Linked DNA regions of Homo sapiens: all the other regions are linked to region 3. Evidence: fine-mapped expression QTL. A gene starts in region 3. Each other region holds a variant in brackets. All regions are shown on one strand. Distances are between the middles of the regions.

Evidence for each region.
Region 1: its variant is fine-mapped to the expression of ESRRB in prefrontal cortex (ROSMAP, PIP 0.90).
Region 2: its variant is fine-mapped to the expression of ESRRB in skeletal muscle (FUSION, PIP 0.95).
Region 4: its variant is fine-mapped to the expression of ESRRB in lymphoblastoid cells (GEUVADIS, PIP 0.95).

What each region holds. Positions count from the first base shown.
Region 1 is chr14:76,220,669-76,225,818 of GRCh38, forward strand. It overlaps a transcript of GPATCH2L not described here. Among named protein-coding and RNA genes, the nearest start is that of GPATCH2L, 71 kb to the left of the region's middle. The variant A/G (reference allele first, on the strand shown) is at 2,300.
Region 2 is chr14:76,307,989-76,313,138 of GRCh38, forward strand. LOC105370575 (a long non-coding RNA gene) reads right to left here and starts at 2,431. Exons shown (of 4, transcript XR_001750833.3): 1 at 1,837-2,431. It also overlaps a transcript of ESRRB not described here. RefSeq lists an enhancer at 1,834-2,447. The variant T/G (reference allele first, on the strand shown) is at 2,724.
Region 3 is chr14:76,374,212-76,379,361 of GRCh38, forward strand. It overlaps ESRRB (estrogen related receptor beta), which reads left to right and starts at 1,926. Exons shown (of 7, transcript NM_001379180.1): 1 at 1,926-2,240. The coding sequence starts at 2,191.
Region 4 is chr14:76,488,989-76,494,138 of GRCh38, forward strand. ESRRB (estrogen related receptor beta) reads left to right here. Exons shown (of 7, transcript NM_001379180.1): 6 at 2,459-2,728. Among named protein-coding and RNA genes, the nearest start is that of ESRRB, 120 kb to the left of the region's middle. The variant C/T (reference allele first, on the strand shown) is at 2,060.

The sequences.
Region 1 (5,150 bases), 150 kb before region 3:
AGAATTTATCATATGCTGGTCTTTAAAGTAAGTCCCAACAAATTCCAAAGGGTAAATCACCTAAAATATGTTCTCTGACCAAAGTGAAATTACTCTAAAAATCAATTTTTTAAAAACCCCAGCAGAGCCTGAAATATTTAGAAATTAAACATTACAATTCTAAATTATTGATAGTTCAAAAATAAATTGCAGTAGATGTTAGACAATATTTGGAACTATATGGCAATTTTTAAATGACATCAAAACTTGCATAAAAAAGGCTAAAAGTCAGTCTAAGTACGCATCTCAAAAAGTAGAAAAAGGATAGCAACAAACCCAGAGATTGGTTCTCTGAAAAGACTAATAATATTGATAAACCTCTAGCAAGACTGATTTAAAAAAAAAAAAGTCAAAAAAATGAGAACATAAGCCCCAGGCTGGGATAAAATGTTTGCAAAAGACACATCTGATAAAGGACTGTTATCCAAACTGTAAAAAGAACTCTTAAAACTCAGCAATAAGAAAAAAAAAAAAGCCCTAAATTAAAAAGTGGACAAAAGATCTGAACAGACACCTCACCAAAGAAGATATACAGATGGAAAATAAGCATATGAAAAGATGCTCATCAGAATAAAATAATAATGAGATGCCATGACATACCTATTACAATGGTGATTTTCCAAAACACTGACAACACCAAATGCTGGTGAGCATGTGGAGCAACAGGAACGCTAATGGGAATTAGCTAATGGGCATGAAAAATGGCACAGCTATGATGAAAGACGGTTTGGCAGTTTCTTGCAAAACTAAGCATGCTCTTACCATACAATCTAGCAATGATGCTTCCTGGTATTTATCCAAATGAGCTGAAAACTATGTCCACAGAAAGACTGCACACAGATGTTTATAGCAGATTTATTTGTAATTGCCCAAGATGTCTTTCAGCAGGTAAATGGATAAACAATCTGGTACATGCAGGCAATGGAATATTATTTAACTCTAAAAAGAAATGATCTATCCAGCCATGAAAAGAAATAGAGGAAATTTAAATGCATATTGCTAAGTGAAAGAAGCCAATCTGAAAAGGCTACCTACAGTATGATATCATCTATATGAACAGGCAAAATTATGGGGACAGTAAAAAGATGAATTGTTGCCAAGGGTTAGATGGGAAGGAGAGGTGAATAGGCAGAGCACAGAAGATTTTTAGGGCAGTGAAAATACTCTGTATGATACTACAATAATGGATAAATGCCATTATACATTTATCAAAACCCATAGAATGTATAACACTAATAGTGAACATTAGTGTATCAACTATGGACTTTGGATGATAAAGATGTGTAACTGTTTTATGATAATGTGTTGATTGTAACAAATGTATCACTCTGGTGAGGAAGGCTGTGCATGTGTGGGGGAAGAAGGTATATGGGAATTCTCTGTACTCCTGCTCAATTTAGCTGTGAATCCAAAACTACTCTAAACTCTATTTTAAAAATAGAAAAAAGGCACAGATTACCAATATAAAACCCCAGAAAAAGCCTGGGATTTTTTAAAACCCCAAACCTTCATATTCTAAGAATGTAATATGAAGAACTTTCTGTCAGCAAATCAGAAAATCCTCATGAAATGGAATTTCTAGGAAAATACAATTTACCAGCTCAAGAGTAAATAGAAGGCTGGGCATGGTGGCTCGTGCCTGTAATCCTAGTTCTTTGGGAGGCCAGGGTGGATGGATCATTTAAGTCCAGGAGTTCAAGACCAGCCTGGCCAACATGTAAAACCCCGTCTCTACTAAAAATACAAATAATTAGCTGAGCGTGGTGGCGTGCACCTGTAATCCCAGCTACTCAGGAGGCTGAGGTGGGGGAATCACCTGAGCCAGGGAGGTCAAGGCTGCAATGAGCTGAGATGCTGCCACTGCACTCCAGCCTGGACAACCGGAGTGAGACCCTGTAACAACAACAAACCCAAAAGAATAAATAGAAAATTTGAATTGTTTATATCTGTTTAAGAAGTTGAATCTGGGCTGGGCACAGTGGCCCACGCCTGTAATCCCAGCACTTTGGGAGACTGAGGCAGGTGGATCACTTAAGGTCAGGAGCTCAAGACCAGCCTGGCCAACATGGTGAGACCCCATCTCTACTAAAATACAAAAATTAGCTGGTCGTGGTGGCATGCTCCTGTAATCCTAGCTACTCAGGAGGCTGAGGCATGAGAATCGCTTGAACCTAGGAGGTGAAGATTGCAGTGAGCCGAGATCGCACCACTGCACTCCAGCCTGGGCAACAGAGTGAGACTGTGTTCAAAAAAAAAAAAA[A/G]AAAGAAAGAAAAAAAAGTTGAATCTGTAACTATAACTTTCCCACAAAAAAATCCCCAGTCCAGATTTTTTTCTTCACCAGCAAATTCTTTTAAACATTTAAAGAATTGACACTAGTCTTATACAAACTGTTTGAAATAATACAAAAAGAAAAATAATTCCCAATTCACTTTGAGGCTACCATAATTTTAATACCAAAGGGTGGCAGGTTCATTACAAGAAAGGAAAATTATAGGCCACTATATCTAATGAACATACTTATAAATATCTTAAAGAAAATATTAGAAAGTAAAGTTCAGTGAATTATTTATTTTAGGAATGCAAGATTTTGGCTTAACATCACAAAATCAGTGTTTTCAACCCATTCAACTGGATTTATTTTCAACAAACTATCTGGGACAACTGGATATCCACATGCGAAATAATGAAGTTGGATCCCTCTTTATACAATATGCAAAATTAACTAAAAACATATCAAAGACCTACACATAAGGGCTAAAACTAGAAAACATTTAGAAGAAAACAAATGCATAAATCTTCATGACCTTGGATGAGGTAATGGTTTATTAGATATGACACCACATGCACAAGCAACTGAAGAAAAAATAGATAAATAAGCCTTTATCAAAATTTAAAATTTTTTGCTTCAAAAAGACACTGTCAAGAAGATGAAACGACGACCACAGAATGGGAGAAAATATTTGCAAATCATATATTGGATAAGGGTCTGATATCCAGAATATATAAAGAACTCTTATGACTCAACAACCAAAAGGTAAACAATCCAATTTAAAAATGGGCAAAAAGACTCGAGTAAGCATTTCTCCAGAGAAGATGTAGGCATGGCCAACAAGCACACGAAAAGATGCTCAACATCATTAGTCACTGAAGAAACACTGAAACTACAAGATGCCACTTTACACCCATTCCTAGACAGTTAAAAACTTATGTACCCCCAAAAGCTTGTACACAAATGTTCATTTTAGCCTTATTTACAATAAACTAAAAGTGAAAACCACCCAAGTACCTATCAACTGATGAATGGTAAACAAAATGTGGTATATCTGTACAATAAAACATCATTCTGCCATGAAAAGACTGAAGTACTGATTCATGTGGCAACATGGATTAACTTTGAGAATATTATGCTAATTGAAAAACACCAGACAGAAAAGGCCATATTCCACTTACATGAAATGTTCAGAATAGGCAAATCCATAGAGACAGATATTGCAGACAGGCAGTAGATTAGTAGCTGCCAATGGGAAAAGGGGAATGGGGAAGGACTGCTAGTAGGTATGAGGTTTCTTTCTGCAGTGATGAAAATGTTCCGGAGTTATATGGTAATCATTGCACAACTTTGTGAATATACTAAAAACCACTGAATTGTACTCTTTAAAATGATGACTTTCAAGATATACGAATTATGTTTCCATTTAAATATTAGTGTATTTCACTACATTAGCATCGTAAGGCAGAAAAAATATCTCAATAGAATGATGCAGAAAAAGCATTTGATAAAATCAAATACTTATTCATAGTGAACACTTAACACACTAGGAATAGAAGGAAACATCTTTAAATTGGTAAAGATCAGTAAAAATCTTACAGGAAATATCATAGTTAATAGTGAAATATTAAAAGCTTTCACCTTGAGATTAGGAATATTTCCTAATACTATTTCTATTAAACATTGTACTAGAGATCTTAACCATTGCAATAAGGCAAGGAAAAGAAGTTACAGACTGCAAAGCATATGATTGTTTATGTAGAACATCCAAAAGAATCTATGGTCAATTAAATTTATTAGAAATAAGTAAATTTGGCAAGGCTACTGGATTCACGTTTACTCTACAAAAATCAATGATATTTTTATATATCTGCAATATTCAGTTCAAAAATGAAATTTAAAAATATTTACAATAGCATCGAAGACATAAACTGAGAATAAATCTAATGAAAGATGAGAAAAAATCTTTACATGGAAAGCATTACAGAGGAAAAATAAAGAAGGTCTAAATAAATGGAGAGATCTGCTGTATTCATGAATTGAAAGCCTCAATATTGTAAAGATGTCAGTTATTTTCCAACTGGTCTACAGAGTTAATGCAATTCCAGTCAAAATCACAGCAGATTTCTTGGGGGAAATTAAGCTGATTCTGAAACATGGAAACATTAGAGACCAAGAATAGAGAAGAGAGTGTTTAAAGAACACAGCTGGAAGACACACTGCTAGCTATCAAGACTTCTTATAAAGTTACAGTAATTAATACCATGTGGTATTGGTGCAAGAATAAACAAATAAAACAGTGAAACAGAACAGAGTCTAGAAGCTGATCCACACACATAGTCACTTAACTGAGGACAAAGGTAATGATGTAGTGCAGCAAGGAAGGGATGACCCGTTCAATATATGGTGCTGACTCAGTTGGATATTCACAGGTAATATACATCTTGATCCCTATTTCCACAACTTGAAAAAAACCAAGTCCATATAGATTGCATAATAAAGATGAAAGTGTAAAAAAGTAAATATTATGGTTAAAAAAAGGAAAGTGTCTTCATTTACTTGAAGTAGGTAAAGATTTAAAAAATAAAATATCAAAAGCACTACCTAGAAAGAGAAAGAAAATGATTACTATAATTATTGGATTATATTAAAGTTGAAATGTTCTATTTATCAAAAGACCCCATTAGTAAAAAAGCAAGCCACAAAATAGGAGATTATACCTGCAACACAAATATTTGACAAAGGACTTGCATTCAGAATCTATTTTTAAAAGTATTACAAATCAATGAAAACAAACAGATGATCCAATGAAATTATGGGCAAATGACTTGAAGAAAACATC
Region 2 (5,150 bases), 66 kb before region 3:
CTCCAAAAGTCCCCATGCGGTCTTCTCTTCCTGACCTCTGACCTCTGGCCAGCTCTGTGGCCAGAGCACGCCTTGCCGTGGGGTACTTGCCCTGCCAGTGCCGCTTCCCGTTTTTTGGGAAGAACCAAGGCAAGATCGAGTGATGTGGCTCAGGTAGGCAGGACACTGGATGGGCCAGGCATTATTCTAAGCATCCTTTTGTGTTGAGTCATTTTGTCCTCATGACAATCCTATGAGATAGACACTTAGAATTCCCACATTGCAGATGAGGAAACTGAAGCACAGACATACTAAGGAATTTTTCTAGAGTTTCCCAATAACAAGCGGAAGAGGCAAGATTCCAACCCAGGGAGTTCCGATCCAGAGCCTGTGCTTAACAGCCCCATCTGACAGGCTCAGAGGTGTGTGTCCGGATGTGCATCTGCTCCGAGTGGACTAGCAGGCCTGGCCCTTGAAGCTGGAGAGGTTTTATGATGAGAAAGTGAGGCCATGATGAGTCTCCTGCAAGCAAAAGCCTGGGGTCTCCTAAGATGATGACCTGCCATTCGAGAGAGCCCCTGTGAGCAGAGAGAAATGCCGCTGGTTATCAGCTGGTCCCAGCAGACCCCTGCTGCCCCCAGGCCAGCTTCAAGGGGGCAGACACCAAGGCTTGGTTCAGTTGGCAGAGTTGAGAACCAGACTGTGAGATGATACAGAGGTCGACCTTGAGATAAAAAGCCAAAACAAAGGTGCCACAGGGGCTTCCTAGGGAGAGGGGTGGCTGGGTTCAACCCAAACACTGACCCCTTCCTACAGACAGGGTGCTGTGCTAGGGGGCTGTGGAAGCCCTAGGAGGGGCTGCAGGATGTCTGCCAGAGATCAGCGAGGGCTCGGTAAGAGTTGGAGGAGAAAGAAAATCATGGAGGGAAGTCCTCAGTTTGCATCAGAAGAGAAAGGTTTTTCCCTGGGAAGGAGCCTGGTGGTGAATGTGCGTGTAAGTGGCTATAGCCCCAGTCATCAGAATGGGAGTCTCTCTAGAGCCCTGTCTCTGCAGGGTTATCTGCTTTTCCAGCAACTAAACTTGCAGGGAACCCTGTGTGTGGCCAGGCCTGAGTAGACAGGAGTGCCTGGTGGCTGACCACTGGCATCACTGGCCTGGTACTCAGAAGGGCAGTGGTTCTCAGATAAAACTGCGAGTGAAAATACAGCAGTTTGACTATATCTGCCTGAAGTCTCACTCCCAGTTCTGGGCCTTCCTAGGGACACTCTTATGATACAGACATTTCTAGAGAGTATCTTACTTAGTCCAAAGGAGTGGCTCAAATGACAGTATCTTAAGTATCACTCTTTCATTCAATTAGTCAGTCAATCAATCCATACTCAGGAGGGTCTTGCTACAGATCAGGTATTATGGGGATGTGATGATGAATGAGACAAACACATAGTCTTTACCTTCTTGGAGCTCATATTGCAATGGCAGGCTACTGGTGGAAAGATTGGAGGCCCTACACGTTTAATAGGTTTTTGACTTCAACAGCTTAGATACCACCCCATCCTCATAGTTTCTGATAACCTGGAGAGTAAAGGATTAGATCTAACATGAAGAGGAGGTTCAACTTCATTTCTTTTAAAAATTGGGGATCAGGAAGTTTTAGGGATTATGAAGTACCTGTCCCTTATCCATACCAGCAAGGGGTTCATCCTATGACCCCTCTTGAAGGGGAAACTCACCTGAAATTCTGCCTCATTTAGCATGCACAAGAAATCCAGAAAATCAAGACAGGTGACCCTGTGTAGTCAAAGCAAGTGGGTCTCCAGATGGCAGATGGGAAGCCCCCTGGGGTAATGCATGCTCACCTGGTTAATTGTTGAACAGCCCATACTTGTGCCGTTTCACCATGATTCTTCCAACTTCCAGAAACAGCCCCTTGGCTCAGCTTTCAGAGCTGGACTGGCCTATCCCAGAGAGGCGGCCCCAACTTTGTAGAAACTGGGACAGGCAGTGCTTCTTAGAGACCCTCCGGTACCCCAAAGAGCGGGGCTTGTTCTCCAAAAAGGAAATCTTTTCAGACGACTTGACGTCCTAAATCTTTCTGGAGAAAGCAGAGACATTAACACCCCCAGGGCCTTTCAACTTCAGGCCGTTCTTCTGTTGGGAACGCCATCTCTTGGCCTCTTCAAAGACCTGGCCTCACCAGGCAACTGCACTTCCTCTCTCACCCTCCAGGAGCCTTCTGCATGGCCCCCAAGAAGCCTGCCTGGCCCCTGAGCTGGGAAAGCTGAATTCCCTCCCTGCCTCCTAATTTGGCAGGAGGAATGGAAACTTTCGTGGAAAGCACTTGAGCTGACGAATGCTCCCAAGTCAGGACTTTGACTCGGGCCCTGACAGGGCCACGGGCTCAGGATCCGGAGGGGGGCGGCTCTCCTTCTCCAGGTCAGGACCTCCTGCCCTGGCTCCTCCCCTTGCTTTCTGCCGACCATCAGTCACCAGCTCCCCTGTGACCCCAAGTGACGGCCGCACACCACTAGAGAAGTCATTGTCTTACACATCCCCCCTTTTCACTTGCCCTCCCCCAGTTCCTCCTCCCCTTCATGGTGTATTTTTCTTCCACACTTTCCTGCGTCCATCAGTGGCTGTGGAGTCTGCATGGGGCTGGGTGGAGTTGGAAGTCTAGAGCTTTTTGCTGTTTTGTTTAAGACCTGGTTATGGTTGTGAGACTTTTTTTTTTTTTTTTTTTTTTTTG[T/G]CAGCTGCCTGTTATATCAATCACGGAGTCGGGATCTATTTATAGGTTGGGAGTACTGTGTCCTTAGTCACAAAGAGACACAGACAGGGGACTGTCAGCTGGTACCGGAGGAGCGGAGCAACGAGTTATCAGCAACTGAAAGCACCTGAGGGGCCGCACATTCCACCCCAGCCCAGTCCTCGTCCTCCACGCCAGCCCCAAGCATGTGAGTAACCCAACTTCTCCCTTTCTCCTCCCCAGACTCTGCGGGTCCTTTTCTGTCCCCTTTCTCTCTCTCTCTCTCTCTCTCTCTCTCTCTCTCTCTCTCTCAATGGATAAAAATATCTCCCCATGCCTGTTCTTTCATCCTGGTTTTCCGCACTCTAAAGCATCCCTGTGTGGCCGAGAGGAAAACGTTGCCTTTCTTAGACTGTCACAGGAAGGTCAGAGGGTCTCTGGATGGCTAGGTGGGACGGTGACACAAACTCATTTGGAAGCAGTGAGTTCCCTTTGATTTTTGTTTGTTTTCACTGAGAAAAAAGTAAGTACATCAGAAGGGCAAGGGAAAGTTTACATGCAGCTCAGCAGGGTAGCGATGTCGCCCAGCGTGAAAACTTTTATTTGCTGGCAGCTCCGGTGTAGGGCAAGCTGGGGAAGGTTACCCAAGAAGACCCAGTGCCCACAGGACAGGTAATGATGGGAGCTCCTGGAAGTTTTGGTTTCAACCTGGGAGCTTCCAGGTTCAGGGAGACTCCCCACAGTCCCGATGACCAGTTTTCTATAGCACCTTAAAGTAAATGATTTTCCCTCTCCCCTCCGCGGAGCAAGTTTGCTTTGAGAAGTCACGATGAGAGCTGAGGATTTGTCCTGCCTTACAGGCTGTCATTGGCTCCCTCATTTGGTGTATTTTCTTAATCCTGAAAGGGAACTTGGCTGGGGACTGGGAGGAAGAGTCCCAGGCCAAAGCCAGGTGTGGAGGGAGGGCTGTTGACTGCTTTGCTCTGCATCCTTCGCAAAGGAAGAAACTTAATATCGTGAGGCTTGTCAAAGCTGTGCTTGTTTCAGACAATTCGAATAGTGTGCCGGCTCTGAGTGCACCTCGGGCGGCTCTAGATGGGGCCTTCCCGGCCACAGTCCTGTGTCCACGGGGCTTACCTGCCACGAGCTTCCCGTGCAACGTTTGGGACTTTAGTTTCTGGATATTGAATAGTATTCACCCGAAATCCTGTACTTGGGAAGATTTGCTTTATAGAATTTACAAAGGAAAAGTAGCCCTACATTTTGAAAAAAAAAAAAAAAAAAGTAATGATGCCTAATTTATACTTAAGTACAACTTTTTAAATGTACCTTTTTTTTTTTTTAACCATGAGTTTCTATTTATCCAATGGATACCATATGCTATATGACTGAGGACTCCTTGATTTGTTTGGGAGAACAATATCCTACAAAGAAACAATCTTTCCAACAATTTAAAAGCATTAAACAAAGCAGATATGCCTGTATTATTTTTGATTGATTACAAACAAAAATAGTTTTACCAGCATGAAACCAGTTAGTTTCATCTAACTCGATGAAAGTTAAATAAATATGGATATACACACGTATGTTTAGAGAAGCAATTTGATATCATTTTTATTTTGACTGTTCTGAAACTTTAACTTTCCTTTTTCTGGTTCCATGTTTTCAGCTGTATTTTGTTTAGGGTTATTAATATCTTTAATCCATTCATTCATTATTTTGGACGGGAGAGTGGGGATCAGGAAGCAATGAGAAATTAGAAGGCAAACGTCCCATGTTCAGCCAGTAAGACCGCATTCAGTAGTGGAGAAATTCAGAACAAGGAGTATGGCGTACAAGGGGGTAAATGTCACTATTTAAGATCTAGTATAGACGGTGAAGTCTAAGAACTCCAGAGGGGGACAAACGCCAACTAGGAGTTAAAGTGTCTTATACATATAGCATTATTATTCTTCCTATTATGAGGGCCTCTATTTTGGTAAATATGTCCTGCTAAGGTTTTTTCACCATAATGCTGAAGTGGGATTTGGTGGATTATTGTTAATTAAAGCTCAAGTGAATGAAGTGATTGAGACATTGCATTCAGAAATCAGAGAAGATTGCTATTGGCAAAGCTGAACTTCTAGGACTTTCAGATCTCAATGGCTTTTGAGAAAAAATGTGGCTTTTAAAAATGCCTTTTAGTACAAGAACAAATTCTACCTCCCCTCCCCAACCTGCACACTGGAGCCTGCCTGGCCCACTGTGCAGGCCCAGTGTGTCAGGATTAAATGCAGTGGGAGAGAGTCCCGCATTCCTGAGCAAGTCCTGTGTTCTCAGAGCCTTAATGGTCAGACAGAAGAATATTTTGTTGGGACATTTAGCTAAAAACTGCCTCTTCCCTGGGCTACGTGTAGATCCTTTCAGGTGAGATAGGGGCTTGTCTGACCG
Region 3 (5,150 bases):
AACAAAAAGAGACATGGTCCCTACTCCCATGGAGCTTACAGTCTAGTGAGGGAAGGGTGGAGGAGGGAATTATCACTCATGCCAGTACACAGACAATTGCAAACTGTGATAAACTACCCAAAGCAAAGGAACCACAGAAGATTCTGGCACTATATGGAAGGTGGGGCCTTCTAGGTGGCAGATGTAAAGACTGGGGCCCAGAGGGAAAGCAGCAGGGGCTGTGGAGAGGAACAGAGGGACCTGCAGGAAGCTGTCATAGGATGCCTTCCTTGGAGGCCAAGGACTGGGGCCTTTTTCCTAATTGCAACAACGGGACATTGGATGTGCATTTTACAAATCGCTCCCTGGCTGCTGTGTGCCTGGAGAATGGATTTCAGCAGGGCAGAAAGGATGCCGAAAAACCAGTCACTGAGGTCCTGGTGAGAGATGATGGTCATATAGAAGCCAGGCTCAAGGGAAGCATCCCTGCACCCCTCTTTCTGTCTCTGATGAAGTACCTATGTGATTTTTAAAAATCGGGGGCTGCTGGGGGGCTACTGACAGAGGAGACATCTTCATCCATCTCTCTGTGAGATGCCTTCCTGAGCCTTGCGCCCAGAGAATCCCACTTGTTCCTCCACTTCAGCACATATGAAAAATCTCAGCTCTGTTTCCCAACCTGCACGAGCACATTTATCCAAGTCAAAAATCATCTGCGATCCTTCTGCCCACTCTCCCAGCCCCTGCCCAGGCGGCTGGCCCCTCCTGGGGTTTCTCACAACCCTCCCTGCCTTTATTCCTGAAGTGCTTGAACATTGCCTGCAGTTACACTCCATTTAGACATTATTTTGATGATAAAATTATGTCTTCCCCCCTACTGCTCATTGTCTTCTGCAGAATATAGGAGAATAAGGTGGTGGTGTCTCCTGAGGGCTTTTCCCCCCTTTTAAATAATTCTATACCTACCCCCCTCCCCACACTCATTTGAATCATCAAATTGATTATTATCCCTGTGGCTGGTGCATCTCAAAAGATGAAAAACCCAGAAGCAGGGCTGGGGCATGACTTACAGCTCATTTTGGTACAGTGGCATCCCATAATATTCGGGTTCACTGAGGGAGCAGCGGACGGGGATGCAGGTGCGTTTGTAGCTGGGGATTCAGGTGTGTATTTCAAAGTGTGTACTTGTGCCTTGGAGTGGATGTGGCGGGTAAGTTGATCATTTTCACCACGATTGTATTTTCCTAAGCAGACAGGAATTTATTTGCTCATGTCTGTGTCCTGGGTACATTTCAGAGAGCTGCCAATGACTAGAGCATCACTTCATACATTGAGAGAACGTTTTATAGATGCGCACCCTGCATCTAGCCATATGAGAGTGGTGCAGAACTGACTGGCCCAGGTGATGAGAACTGGGAAGGGAATCTGTTTCTCTCCTGCCTTCTTGCTGTGCCTCACCTGCTGGCCTGACCCTTTGCACTTTTGCGCACACAGCGCAGGGTTTGAGGCTGCCTCTTCTCTTTGGTGCGTGGGTGGAGAAATGTGACTCATTTTTAATTTGGAAAACAGATCCATTCCAGAAAGGCTGAGAGGTGAGTTTGCTAGACCTGCCAGTTAAAAGATGGGATAGGGGTGGCCCGGGGGGTATGTAAGCAATAAATCTCCCCCCACCCCAGACCCACCTGGCGGTTGGACATTCCCCCCCACCCCCCTTTAACTGCGAGAAGGCAGGCCTTAGGGCTCTAACACCCAGTACTCCTACTGCTCAGGAGGTGGGGACCTCGCGCGCTGAGCGTCTCATTCCATGAAGTCTCTCTGTCTCACCCCCTCCCCCCACCCCAGCTTGATTCTGTCACTTTAAGTCCAGCCCCTGAGAGATAGCCAATAGGAGCCAAACTATACATCAGTCTCCCAGCCTTAAAGCTACAGTAGGGTTAGTGGGCTCCAAGTCTCTTGTGCCCCAGCCTCCTCCACGGCTTCGCATCCCCTCTGCCCGCTCTCTCCGGAGCGTGCGGATGAGTGGAGAGCTGGGCTGTGCGCGCACGGCTCTCTGCCTCCCTCTCCCCCGCCGCGGCCGCCTCCTCCCACTCTGCGTTCTCGCGCTCACTGTGCCCTGCCCGGGCTCGCACCTTGCCCGTGCCCTTCACTCGCTCTTCCGCGTGATTTCCCCGCCGTCTTTCTCTACCAACTGGGAATGCTAAAACGGGACTGATGGACGTGTCCGAACTCTGCATCCCGGACCCCCTCGGCTACCACAACCAGTAGGTGCCCTGCTTCTCGGTCTGTCTGTCCTTCTGCCCGTCTGGCAGTCTCTGTCCTGGGGATCGCAGTTCCTTTTCTGCACATTCTTGTGTAAAAGTGGAAGGGACTTCGGGGGGGCACTTGGGGGACGAAGGAGGGGAAAAGCCGCACACTTCTGGGTTTCTTTCTAGGGCATAAACCCTCCTCTAACTTTTTCCCGCACCCCCTTTTACAAATCCACACTTTCAGGCAAGAGTGGCGCTTTCTCATGCACTTTCTCCCTTTCTCTCTCCTCTCTGATCTTGCTCCGGGGTGAGAAAATATTTGAGTTTTTGTGGAATGGAGCAAGAAGGGAGGCAGAAGCCCAGAACAGGTGCAGGGATGTGGTTGCAAGGATGTCCTGTCCCGTCAGAGAAAGCCTTTCCCGCGGGCGCTTTGTTTTATTATTTCCATCCTGGGGACCAAAAATGATCCCGGCAAGAGAGAGAAAATCGAACGTGCCGCGGCGGTTTGGAAACTGCAGGCGGCCAGTGCCGCTCTCGCCTCGCGGTCTCCGTGGGGCGCCCCGAGGGTGCGCACGTGGCGCGGCGGATCCAGGGCGCCCGGGGGATGCGGGCCCAGCGCTGCGTCGTAGGCAAAGTTCGTTCTCGGCTTTGGGGGAGGCTGTGACCAGCGGAACAGAAGGGCACCATTTCCCTGCTCCGAGGCGGCTTTGCGCTCGCGGTGCCAGAACCTGGGGTTATCCGAGCGGCGTGGGCGCGGGCGGCAGCCGGCGCCGCGAGAAGCGACTCTCAGAAACCGCGGGTCTCCAGCCCCGGGGCAGCGCGCCAAGAGCGCAGAGTGGGAAAGTGAACTGATCGCCTAAGCAGCGGGTGGTCAACCCGCGTGTCATGTCCGGGCTCTCGGGGATCCCACTCTATCCACCTACGGTTTCCCTCCCGACACCCTCCACGGTCGCCGCTCCACCTGCTCGGGTACCTGCCCGGGTCTCCCCTTGGGCGCTGCGCACCCCACGGCGCCCCCGGCGGGTGTCCCGGAGGCAGGTTGTGTGCGCGTGCAAAGTGGTCCCTCGGAAGGCTTAATAATAATAATACATAAAACTCTAGGTTCTTACGGACAGCTTTCCTGCTTAACTTTGTGCTCGTCTTCCTCTTTTTTTTCTGACGCAAACTAAATTCTCCAAGTCAGCGTTTCTCCAGTTCCACCGTGCTTTCATTTGTGTACCACTCGCTCTCCCCCTCCCCCCAAGAACCACGACTACATCTCTAAAATAAATACTCTGGATCATGTGGGGTCCCAGGAAGTACCTAACCCCTCTCCTGGCTGCATGGAGCACCTCCACCACGGTGCACCCCGCTTGAGAGAGAGGGCAGCTGTCCACAGCATGGCTTGTGTTGTTGACCAGACTGTTCCTGCTTCTAGTTTGGGGATTTTCCCCACTCCACCCTGGGGCAGAGGGCCTTTTAGATGCCACCAGAATGTCGGCAGAAGGCGCTGGTCTGGGAGAGGAATCCTTAATAATAATGGATTCCGATTTCCATCAGCTTGAAAAGTGGCTTTCATTCCTTTTAAAGGTTAGATTCTAGCTGGGGTGGGGATGGGGTGGGAGCACCTGAGGTTAGTGAGGCTGTGGACAGTATTTGGTGCTTGTGGAGCATTTCCTTACATAAAATGATCAAGTATGACAAATATTGGATATTTAAATTATTAAGGCTCCCTCTCTCCAGAGGTGACTTCTTTAGTTGAGCACGAAATACTTATGTATTTGTCCCTGGCTCAAGTCATAGTCAATAAATATGAAAATTCGTATGAAGGAAGTACATTCTTTGATTATGCTTACCAGGAAAGCAAGGAGTGAGATGGAGGCTTTAACAGCTGGGTAATTCATCGAGTTGACGGCAGCCCTGACTGGAGTTTGAGGAGAAATATGGGCAAAAAGGCAATGTCAGGGAAGCAGCAGAAGGAAGTCAGGGAGCTGAGGTCCTGGGGGTCTGGGAAAGGTTTGAGATAGAAATCATTTATAAACTAAGCCTGACAGAGGTTTAGATCCCCAACCCTTTCCGGTTTTTTTTTGCAAAGAATTAGCTTGTCCCTCCATGGGGCACAGGAAAAGCCAAAAATATACCTGCTGTCTCCACCGAGGAATTGAGCACCCCTGTCAGATGTCATTTCTCAAAGCCCAGGACCCACTGGGCAGCAGCCCAGGCATTGATGAGCTGGCCTCTTATACATATATGTGCCGCCTAGGGAGGGTCTGCATGTGCTGTGGCGCAGAGGGGCATCATTTCAAGGACGAGCTTGTGGAGGTCTGGGGCTGGTGTCTGGGGAGACATCTTTCTGACCTCTACCCCATGGCTTTGTGACACAGCTTTAGAGCCATGGGTAGTAAAGTAACAGAGCAGGGGACTGGATTCTTTGGTTTGGTAGAAGGATAGTAGGACAAAGCCATTCATTATAGTGCCGGCATTTCCCAGGGAACATACAGTAAGTGGGTTCGTGTATGCTCTGCTCACTGTTTTGACCCCTGTGGATTGGCTGACATTCCCAGACTTGAGAAAACCCAAGGGCACAGGGACTAGAGTTGAGGGAGGAGGAACTCTCTGGTCCTCCCTTTTGCTTCTAACACATAGAGAGCATTTGTTAATGCTGTAGAATCATTCTCACTTTCCCAGGTGAGAAATGAACACACACAGAGAGAAACATACGTACCTTCCTACCTTGCTCTCCTTCATTTTCATTTTCCTGTAGCCAATCCTGTAGGTGACTCCATTACCCATTCTAATCAATATTTTATGTACATATATAATCACCCAGAGTGGGAGGCAGCGTGCTCGCCTGTGTGTGCCTGTGTACAAATGGGTCCATGACTGGACCAGCTGGAGACCCACGGCAAACAGTCCAGAGAGCAAGGGGGGCTATCTTCCCCACCG
Region 4 (5,150 bases), 110 kb after region 3:
CCTGGCACTTAGTAGGTGCTCTGTAAGTTTTTGCTGAATGTCTCAAAGGGCAGAAAAGCATTCTAGTAACATCCTAATGATTGTACCTGCAGGATTCACTGCACAGGGGACTTTTCCCCTGCGTTTCCAGAAGCCTAGTCCTTACCTCATCCTCTCTCTCCACCACCTTCCAATTCAGTTGTCTGCTAATTTCACCCCTGCCCTCCTCCTCCATCTCCCCTCCAGTCTGTCTGCTTTTAGACCCCCTCCCTAGAGCTGTCCAACACTCCCCCCAACACACTCTCCGGTGCTGGCTGATTGGTATCTGTTAATTAATGTTGCCCAAGGCCTCTCTCCTACTCAAAGACCTGATAAGGGAAATTGGATGTCCATTTCTATCTATCTTTTATTACCTCCCAGCTCCCCCGGCCACCACAGGCAGCCACACACCCTCTCCCATGCAGGGAATCTGGACAACCACACACACACACACACACACACACACACACACACCCTGATCCCCTGTCACAGCCTCTCCCCTGAGAAGGTGCATCAATCAAAGCTCCCCCGTGTCAGTCGGTGTAATCACTCCTGCTCTTTTGTTGATCACCCATGGATTCCATTAGCCAGTGGTGATCTGAGGCCCAAGTTGTATAGATCAGTCTTGGGAACTGTGATAATTCACTTGGAGAATGCTCACAGGGTAAGGGTGGTCTGCCTGGTCAGGGACCTTCAGCTCCAGGAGTGACCCCTAAGGTTCAACTGCCATGCCCTGTGTGGAAGCCAGGGAAGAAGTGGCATTTGGAGACAGGACAGCAGATGGATGGGGGAGACCACACAAGCCAAAGAGCTGGGTGGTCCAGAAGCTCAGGACCACCCAGGCCTCCAGGCAAGTCCAGAGAGGAGAAGTGAGTGATGCCAATGGTGTGCCAACAACAACAACAATATTTAGTAACAACAGCCACAGCCATGACCAGCACCCTAGCATGTTGAGTGCTGATGGCGCCGGGAGAGGTGCCCAGCACTGTACATGCATCTTCTCTTTTCGCCCCCACAGCACCCCACATCAGAAAGTGGCTTCCAGCCAAGGATGGGGTCTAAGTCAGCAAATGAAGTAGAAAGTCCTTCCTAGGCAAAATTACCCCTGAAAAAAATCCCTTCATGTCAGTTACCCATAGTGCATGGTGCAAACAACTTTGTGGATGCCCTTCCTTCTTTGAATAAATCCAGCATGTCCGTGTTAGAACCAATCACTGAGTTTCTGTTTGAATCTCCAGTGAAGTTACTGCCTTGTGTTTGGTGGTTAAGATGCTTGAAAATCAGCTGACTTATTTATTTACTTACTCTCTCTTACTCTCCTATAAATCAAGATGTTAATTGACTTTGCCTAATTTAAGTGCATGTATAATGCAATTCCAGTACATTATCATTGTTCTGCAGTGAGAACTTTCATCTCATCATTAGTAATAATAGCTCAGTAAATACTTTGTATATTCTGGAATCATCGTCTCATTTAGACCTCACAGCAACTCTCTGAAGTAGACCCTACTATTATACTATTTCCTAGATGAGGAAGCTAAGGTTTGGAGAAGTTGCATGGTTTTCACAAGTTCAGCCTACAGCTAGTAAGCGGGAGTCAGGGTTCAACCCAGGCAATCCCCACAGTTCACTGGGCAAGACAGTGTCACAGTTCTGGAGCCTTCTCCATGCCCAACTTTATTTTCACTGTGGAATCAGCCTCCTCAAATAGCAGGGAGGGGGGAACTAGCATGATTCCAAGCTCCCGGAACAGGCCTGCTGGGTCATCGTTAAGCAGAGAGTTATGGCCCGGGAAGAGGGGCTCCGACCCTGGGAGAGCAGGCTGTCCTGTGAGAAAGTGCCCCTGACCCCGGGGGCTCTTGATCTCTTAGCAGCCCCAGGCTATGGTCACTGGGGCCTTCCCCTGTGGCTTTGAACAGCTGCGTCCTCGTTCTTGGTCAGGCCCGTGGGTCTCTGCACAGCTGAGACTGCATCAAGGATCAGGTGTCATTTTCAAATACCAAAGCCTCCCCTGGTTTGAGCAGAGAGTGGGCCCTGGAAA[C/T]TCCCCAGAGTGGCCGAGAGCACGTACTGCTGCCTCCTGGTTCCAGTATGTACTCAGTCACTCCTTTAACTACAAATGCATTGAATTAAACAAAAAGCCTCTACAGACGTTTGGAAAATACCATAGAGCTAACAATCATAATGATAACAACAACTGTCAACATTGACTGAGCTCTCATTTTGTAAGTCTTTTCCGTGAATTCCAAGTCTGAGGCATTCCCCAAGGGGAGGACAGTGAGTCTTACGCTACACAGGGAAAGCCTGGGGGCAGGATCCAGGGGTGCCAGGGACACCCCGCAACCAGCCACGCCCTGCAACCTCTGCCCCCAGCGAGCCCCAGGGAGGCCCCTGGTCCGCCCTCCTGACCTGCTGCTGCCCTCTGTGCCCCCTCTTCCTGCAGGCTTCTCAAGCCTCTCCCTGGGGGACCAGATGAGCCTGCTGCAGAGTGCCTGGATGGAAATCCTCATCCTGGGCATCGTGTACCGCTCGCTGCCCTATGACGACAAGCTGGTGTACGCTGAGGACTACATCATGGATGAGGAGCACTCCCGCCTCGCGGGGCTGCTGGAGCTCTACCGGGCCATCCTGCAGCTGGTACGCAGGTACAAGAAGCTCAAGGTGGAGAAGGAGGAGTTTGTGACGCTCAAGGCCCTGGCCCTCGCCAACTCCGGTAAGGGCGGCGGCGGGGCCTGGAAGGGGAGCTTCTAGGGCTCTGCATGGGCCTAATGAGCCCATCCCTGGGGCCTGTGGGCAGGGCTGGCTGCCATGGATAGAGATGAAAGGAAAACACTGAAACTTTTTATTACTGAAGATTGTCCAAGGGGTGGCCTGCAGATAAAAAGCTGGTGATGAAGGCTGACACTGGCTGAGCATTTCCTAAGCCTCAGACATCCAGACTGGCACACTGGCTAAGGACATGGGTTCTGAGGCCACATTGCTAAGGAGCAAATCCCACGTCTACCAACTGGGCAAGTTGCTTCACTCTGTGCCTCAGTTTCTTCATCAGTAAAAGGAGGGCAGCCAAACAGTCCCTACTCTACAAGGCTATTGACAGGATTTCTTTATACATAATTATATTGCTTGCAACATGCTTGGCACATAAAAAGCACTCAATTATTTATTTATTTGTTTATTATAGACGGGGTCTTGTTCTGTCGCCCAGGTAGGAGTGCTGTGGCTTGATCCTAGCTCACTGCAGTCTCAAACTTTTGGGCTCAAGCCATCCTCCCACCTCAGCCTCCTGAGTAGCTGGAACTACAGGCATGTGCCATTATTCCGGCCAATTCTTATTTCTATTTTTTATGGAGATAGGGTCTCACTATGTTGCCCAGGTTGGTCCCAAACTCCTGGGCTCAAGCAATCCTCTCACCTCAGCCTCCCAAAGTGTTGGCACTACAGGTATGAGCCACCACGCTCAGCGTCAACTTATTAAATTAGCTAGGAGTTTATTGAATTCTTACAAACAACCCAAGAGTAAAATTCTTATTGTTGCAACCCCATTTTACAGATGTGGAAACTGAGACCTGAAAAAGTAAAGAAAATCACCCAGGGTCACACAGTTAAAAAGTGTCAGAGTTAAGAGTCAAACCAAGGTCCTCTGATTCCAAAATCAACCTGAACCTATACCCACTCCTTGAATCTTTCAGTCAAATTTCTTGAACACAGGAGGATAAAACCTTCCCAACTGAGTGGTTTAAGCTGGAGTTACAAAGGAGGACTCACTCCATTTCATTAGCATCCACCAACTTCTGGCTAGATTATCTGAGGAGAGAGGCAGGCGTTGGGTAATGCCAGTAAGTGAACTTGAATGTAACCAACATCCACACTTAGAGAGCTTCCACACTATTCAGGGAATGGTGCTGGGTGCCAGGGGGCTGCAGGAGAAGGATAAATACAGGGTACCCTCCCTAAAGAGAACACATGCCAGGAATCACACACATAATTCTGTTGCAGAGCAGTGTGTGGCAGAGTTAACTGCCCAGGTCTGGGTCAGATAGACCCAAGTTCAAATTCTATCTCTGACACTTCCTAGCAGTATGACCTTGGGTAACTCAGTGTCCTTGTGTGTTCAGTGGGGATATTCTGAGCACCTCTTCCAAGCACTTTATTTTATTTTATTTTTTTTTGAGACAGAGTCTCACTCTGTGGCCTGGGCTGGCGTGCAGCGATGCAATCTCGGCTCACTGCAACCTCTGCCTCCCGGGTTCAAGCGATTCTCGTGTCTCAGCCTTCCGAGTAGCTGGGACTACATGCGTGCACCGCCACACTCAGCTAATTTTTGTATTTTTAGTAGAGACGGGGTTTCGCTATGTTGCCCAGGCTGGTCTCAAACTCCTGGCCTCAAGTGATCCACCCGCCTTGGCATCCCAAAGTGAGGGGATTACAGGTGTGAGCCACCACGCCCAGCCCCAAGTGCTTTTGTGAGTATTAAAGATTGACTGACAATAAAGCACTCAGCCTGGTGCCTGGCCTAGAGGAAATGTTCAATAAATATTAATTATTATCATTACTATTAATGATAGAGGATACAAAGTGTTATTAGCATATGGAAAAGGGAGAACTGGCTCCCAGATGCAGACAGTACACACAGGGTAACCAACTGGTTTGCTCAATACTGTCCTGCTTTTACTGAAAGTCCCATATCCCAGGAAACTCGTCAGTCCCTGGCAAACTGGGACAGTTGGTTGCCCTAGCACATGGCTTCATGGTGCATGCAGGGGGTGCTGTTGATGACCCACTTGGATCCCTTTTACTGGGTTAGTGCATCCATCCCCTAGCTGCTAACAGTTCAGAGGTACCCCTTTGCAGGGCCTACCCTCCTCTGCCTTGCCCAGAGGGTTATGTGGCCCTTTCCTTGGCACCACCAGGCAATGGTGGACCCACATGGGTACAAAAGTTCGGATCAGAGCCCTGCATGGGATCAGGCTGAAGCCGAGGTCCCATCTTTGCCTTGCTTTCTCCTTCCCTGTGCTTCCTGCCTCCCCACTTCCTTTCTCCTGAACACATGCCCCCCGTAAATGTCTGTACCTAAACCCTTGCCTCAGGCTCTGCTCCCAGGGAACCTGATCTAACACAGAAAAGGATGCCACTTT